2 separate regions of the Homo sapiens genome follow, and region 1 is linked to region 2. Evidence: fine-mapped expression QTL. A gene starts in region 2. The other region holds a variant in brackets. All regions are shown on one strand. Distances are from middle to middle. Region 1 has its middle 100 kb from the start of PTPN11. Region 2 holds the start of MAPKAPK5 (MAPK activated protein kinase 5).

Evidence for each region. PIP is the estimated chance that this variant, and not a neighbour inherited with it, causes the effect. A credible set is the group of variants that fine-mapping cannot tell apart.
Region 1: its variant is the best candidate, but not a certain one, in a credible set for the expression of MAPKAPK5 in tibial artery (GTEx, PIP 0.65).

The regions. Positions count from the first base shown.
Region 1 is chr12:112,518,544-112,521,442 of GRCh38, reverse strand. No RefSeq gene overlaps it. Among named protein-coding and RNA genes, the nearest start is that of PTPN11, 100 kb to the right of the region's middle. The variant C/T (reference allele first, on the strand shown) is at 1,652.
Region 2 is chr12:111,841,166-111,844,064 of GRCh38, reverse strand. It overlaps MAPKAPK5 (MAPK activated protein kinase 5), which reads right to left and starts at 1,837. Exons shown (of 14, transcript NM_003668.4): 1 at 1,296-1,837. The coding sequence starts at 1,331. It overlaps MAPKAPK5-AS1 (MAPKAPK5 antisense RNA 1), which reads left to right and starts at 1,060. Exons shown (of 2, transcript NR_015404.2): 1 at 1,060-2,738. RefSeq lists enhancers at 1,152-1,251, 1,982-2,261 and silencers at 1,342-1,691, 1,772-1,951.

The sequences.
Region 1 (2,899 bases), 680 kb before region 2:
AAAAAATTCAAAAATTAGCCGAGCGTGGTGGTGTGTGCCTGTAGTTCCAGCTACTCAGGAGGCTGAGACAGGAGGATGGCTTGAGCCCAGGAGGCGGAGATTGCAGTAAGCTAAGATCCCACCACTGTACTCCAGCCTAAGCAACAGAGCGAGACCCTGCCTCAAAAACAGGCCATGCGTGGTGGCTCATGCCTATAATCTCAATACTTTGGGAGGCCAAGAAGGGCAGATCACCTGAGGTCAGGAGTTTGAGACCAGCCTGGACAACATGGTGAAACCCTGTCTCTACTAAAAATACAAAAATTAGCCAAACGTGGTGGCAGGTGCCTGTAATCCCAGCTACTTGGGAGGCTGAGGCACGAGAATCACTTGAACCCGGGAGGCAGAGGTTGCAGTGAGCTGAGATCGTGCCACTGCAGTCCAGCCTAGGCGACAGAGCTAATCTCAGTCTCAAAAAAAAAAAAAAAAAAAACCAACAATTGTTCCCATGATGTCTATTAGCTCATTTAATCCTCACAGTGGCATGGGCAGTACGGTACAATTGTCAGCCACATTCTTCAGTGAGGAAACTGAGGCTCTAGAAGCTTAAGTTACCAAAATCACACAGGCACGACTCCTAACCAGCTCTTGACTCTCAGCCTTCCCCCACTCTCAACTCTTTAAAAATCACCCTCTCCAAAATGGAAGCACTTCCCCCAATTATCCAAGGCAGAGGTGATAATCAATCTATCTCTCTTCCCAAGATTAAAAGCCATTAGCAAATAATAACATGTTTGCCTCTCCTGTGTGTGTTTGAATTAAGTTTTCATTCCATACCAGGGAGAAAATCTAACTGAGGACTTCCAATACTAATAATAGACTGCAATAAAAGTAAAAGGTTTTTGCTTAACAATTACCTCTTGGAAGAGCTATCTAAACCCTAATGCAATCTGTGAATATTGTGCACTGATTCTCCCTGCTATGCGTTACCAACTGGTAAATTCATACTGAGAGGTGACAGCATGCTGGCAGCCCTTAACAGCCCTCGCTCGCTCTAGGCGCCTCCTCTGCCTGGGCTCCCATTTTGGCGGCACTTGAGGAGCCCTTCAGCCCGCCACTGCACTGTGGGAGCCCCTTTCTGGGCTGGCCAAGGCCGGAGCCGGCTCCCTCAGCTTGCGGGGAGGTGTGGAGGGAGAGGCGCGGGCAGGAACCGGGGCTGTGCGCGGTGCTTGCGGGCCAGCGCGAGTTCCTGGTGGGCGTGGGCTCAGCGGACCCCACACTTGGAGCGGCAGGCCGGCCCCACCGGCCCCGGGCAGTGAGGGGCTTAGCACCTGGGCCAGCAGCTGCTGTGCTCAATTTCTCGCAGGGCCTTAGCTGCCTTCCCGTGGAGCAGGGCTTGGGACCTGCAGCCCGCCATGCCTGAGCCTCCCCCCACCTCCATAGGCTCCTGTGCGGCCAGAGCCTCGCCTACGAGCACCGCCCTCTGCTCCAGGGTGCCCAGTCCCATCGACCACCCAAGGGCTGAGGAGTGCAGTCGCACTGCATGGGACTGGCAGGCAGCTCCACCTGCAGCCCTGGTGCAGGATCTACTGGGTGAAGCCAGCTGGGCTCCTGAGTCTGGTGGGGACGTGGAGAACCTTTGTGTCTAACTCAGGGATTATAAATACACCAA[C/T]TGGCACTCTGTATCTAGCTCAAGGTTTGTAAACACACCAATCAGCACCCTGTGTCTAGCTCTGGGTTTGTGAATGCACCAATCGACACTCTGTATCTAGCTACTCTGGTGGGGACTTGGAGAACCTTTGTGTCCACACTCTGTATCTAGCTAATCTGGGGGGGACTTGGAGAACCTTTGTGTCTAGCTCAGGGATTGTAAACGCACCAATCAGTGCCCTGGCAAAACAGACCACTCCGCTCTACCAATCAGCAGGATGTGGGTGGGGCCAGATAAGAGAATAAAAGCAGGCTGCCCGAGCCAGCAGTGGCAACCCACTGGGGTCCTCTTCCACACTGTGGAAGCTTTGTTCTTTTGCTCTTTGCAATAAATCTTGCTACTGCTCACTCTTTGGGTCCACACTGCCTTTATGAGCTGAAACACTCACCGCGAAGGTCTGCAGCTTCACTTCTGAAGCCAGCGAGACCACGAGCCCACCAGCCCACCGGGAGGAAGGAACAACTCCAGACGCGCGGCCTTAAGAGCTGTAACATTCACCGTGAAAGTCTGCAGCTTCACTCCTGAGCCAGTGAGACCACGAACCCACCAGAAGGAAGAAACTGAACACATCCGAACGTCAGAAGGAACAAACTCCGGACACGCCGCCTTTAAGAACTGTAACACTCATCGCGAGGGTCCGCAGCTTCATTCTTGAAGTCAGTGAGAACAAGAACCCACCAATTCCGGACACAATACGACCCCAGCAACAGGCTATGTCAAAAGCCTGAAAGACATTCCCTAGCCCCATAGGAAAAACACAGCTGTTTACTGAGCACCCACTATGTGCCAGGCCATCCATTAATATTAAACTTCTCAACAACCCTTCCCAACAAAGTAGGAAAAGTAGCTCCATTTTTCTAAAGAGGATGGGCAGACCGAAGGCCTTTACTGACAAGCCCAAGGTCGCACAGCTAGTAAATGGCAAAACCAGGAAAGTAACCCAAGCCTGTAAAGTTCCAAAACTCCGATTTTCCTCCTAAATCAACATGCCTAGAACAGAATGCTCCATCTGCACCTGCAGCCTAAAACGCAGAGGTATTTATCGTCCTCAACCAAAACGCCTGTTTTAACTTACCCTAAGCAGAAACCTGATGGTTGATTGTTAACTCTAAAGACAGGAATTAGATGGTCCTAAATAAGAGCTTTAATGCATTTTCGAATGTGGAAAAGTTATTCAACACAGTAAATCAATGCACAATAGGACCTCGC
Region 2 (2,899 bases):
AGATCACGAGGTCAGGAGATCGAGCCCATCCTGGCTATTACGGTGAAACCCCGTCTCTACTAAAAATACAAACAAAAGAAAAAATTAGCAGGGCGTGGTGGGTGGGCGCCTGTAATCCCAGCTACTCGGGAGGCTGAGGCAGGAGAATGGCGTGAACCCAGGAGGCGGAACTTGCAGTGAGCCAAGATCGGGCCACTGCACTCCAGCCTGGGCGACAGAGTGAGACTCCGTCTCAAAAACAAACAAACAGACAAAAAACCTGGTCTTCCTTAATGTATATGTTATATGTTGATGCCTCCTTTAAAGGGTTAAGTTTCTTTGGAATGACTTGATGATTTTGAGAAACTATATACACCACCTAAAGAATTGGTAGAAATGTAAATTCTTAATCATTACTAGTAACTGTCTTGAAGGGGAAAATAACCCCAAGCTGCCAATAGATGCCTGTCCTTCAAGATAAAATGAAATTATTCAATGCACTGGGCTGACTTAACACTACAAATAAGTAAATAATACATCAAACTTTAAGCGTCAATGTTTAATTTTCATAAGACTAATTTCTTAGCTACAGCTGTCAAGACAGATAACTGGCCCTGAGTGGGCAAAATGTGCCTTTAAAAAAAAAAAAAGTTAAAAACAGGTTTTAGAAAACTTATTTTATTTGTGTAATTTTCGAACACACATTTGCTTTTCTTTTGGTTTAAGTGCAGTTAAGTCACAGGAACTGTTAACTTTTCCTAAGTAAACTCAATGCTTCCTAGGAGAAAGAAGAGGAAAAAGAAAAAGGGGAGAATACACGGAAAAGTGAGGACAACCTATTCCCCAAAGGACAGGTTTTGTACGGCGAACCACCTTTTTCCAACTGCAGATTTCCAGAAGGCTGATTTCAAACAAATCGGGAGGGATGGATAAATTCCAACTCTCCAAGTTCTGTAGACCATCCGGAAGCAAATGCTGGCGGCCTTGGGGAGTGATCGAAACGTGTAGTAGTAGTAGTAGGGCTCTCTTCGTCCCATTCATTGACACTTAATAGTGTCTCCAGGCCACTCACCTCTGTTCCAGCTGAGCACAAATCACACTCACCAGGGAAGCTGGCGGGAGTCGGACACACACCTACACCCACACCCATAACCCTTGGCCCCAGGGCTGTAAAGCGCGATCCACGGAATCCGGGGGAGGCCGAAACCCGGTAGTCGATGGAACCTCTCACTGCAAAATCTCCCTGCTTTTTGAGGCTAGAGCCGAGAAGAACGCCACAGGACAACGCGGGGGAAGAGGGGGCACCTCCCCCTTACCTTGATGGCTTTGTCCATGTCGCTCTCCTCCGACATACTCAGTGGGGCCCCCACAGCCGGGAGAGGCGGAGGCTGCTCAGCAGCCCTGTCCCCGCGCGGCCGAGGGAGCAAAGGGCTCGGCACTCGGGCCCCTGGGCCTCGTGGCGACGGGCAGCAGCCGCCCCTCGGGACCGGTGGGGATGAGGACCCCGGCGCCGGCTCTGCTTCGGCGGGCGGCTCTAGGCTGGCGGCAGCAGCAGCGGCGGAGGCGGCGGCCCCTGGGGACAGGTCTTTGTGCTGGGCCCCACGCGGCCGCCTCCTAGCCTCATCCCCAGCTGGGGAGGCAGGCTCCTGGGGTAGGGCGAGGCGGGGAGGGCCTCGACCCGGGGCGCCGTGCAAGGGCCTCGCGGGGCCGCCGCTTAGACCTGGGCTCGCCAGGTCCTAAAGAAGAGCCTGCGCCTCCGCCTCCGCCGCCTGCACCGCCGCGAAGCCGAAGCCGAAGCCGAAGCAGAGCTCGGCGCCGCTGCTCCCGCCGCCGCCTCAGCGCCACACATCGCCGGGACACCCGCGCCGGGCAGCCCCGCCGGCCGCCCTCACGCACGCGCTGTGCCCCGCGGGAGCTCCAGGCCGCCCCTCCTGCCGCCCAGCTTCGTGACTCCACGGCCCCACGCGCCCCTTGCTGCCTTCCGCTGGGGTTTCCGAGCCGCCCCCGAACCGCGCACCCGACTTGCAGGCGTCCGCCTGGGCCTCCCTAAGACACGCCGCATACAGGACAGGCCCCTGGGCCTTCCGCGGCGATGGCGCTGCGCTAATGACGTCATAGGCCCGGACTCGCGTGAGTGCGCGTGCGTTGGGGCCTCAGCCTTTATCTCCACTCTGCGGAGATTCACGCCTGGAAAACGCTCTTCTGAGAGGATCTGTGGAGGTCAACCCAGGAGAGAGAAGACAGGACTGAAGCACTGAAAGGGTCCTGCCGTTAAGGGCGCAGGATTGTATAGAATATATAATAGCAGTAGCAGCTCTGTTTACGGAGCATTAACCTTACGTGGAGTTATTTCCTGCATTTCCTCCTTTCGTCTTTACAAGGTAGCCGTTTGGCGTCGTGAGGTATGGATGTTCCCATCCCTAATTTGCAAAATAGGTAACTGAGGCTCAGGAGAGCTAGACTAGTTTGTGCACAGCCGAGAAGTGGTCAAGCTAGAATGGGACCCCAGGTTTGTGCTCCCTACTCTCCACCGATAACCTATCAAAGGGCTTTGCAAGAGCTTTTGACTAATCGTCTGTCAATGGTTCTTCATTCACGTATTAATTGCACATCAGTATGTGCCAAATCTACTAGACATTGGAGAAACAGTAGGAACAACACATGGTACCGGCACATGGATCTTTCAGGAAAACGAAGTAGGTAATAAACAGGAAAAAGCCCGAGTCTGATGCTAAGAAGAACATAAACAGGATGCTGAGGTAAGAGAATAACTGGATGTGGGGACTTCTTCGTATTAGATGATTAAGGAAGGAATCTCAGGAGGTAACATTTAAGCTGAGACCCCTGAGGAATGAGAAAGGGCTGGCTATTGGAAATCCAAGGAAAGATTTCTGGGCAGATGGGTAGAAATTTTAAGGTG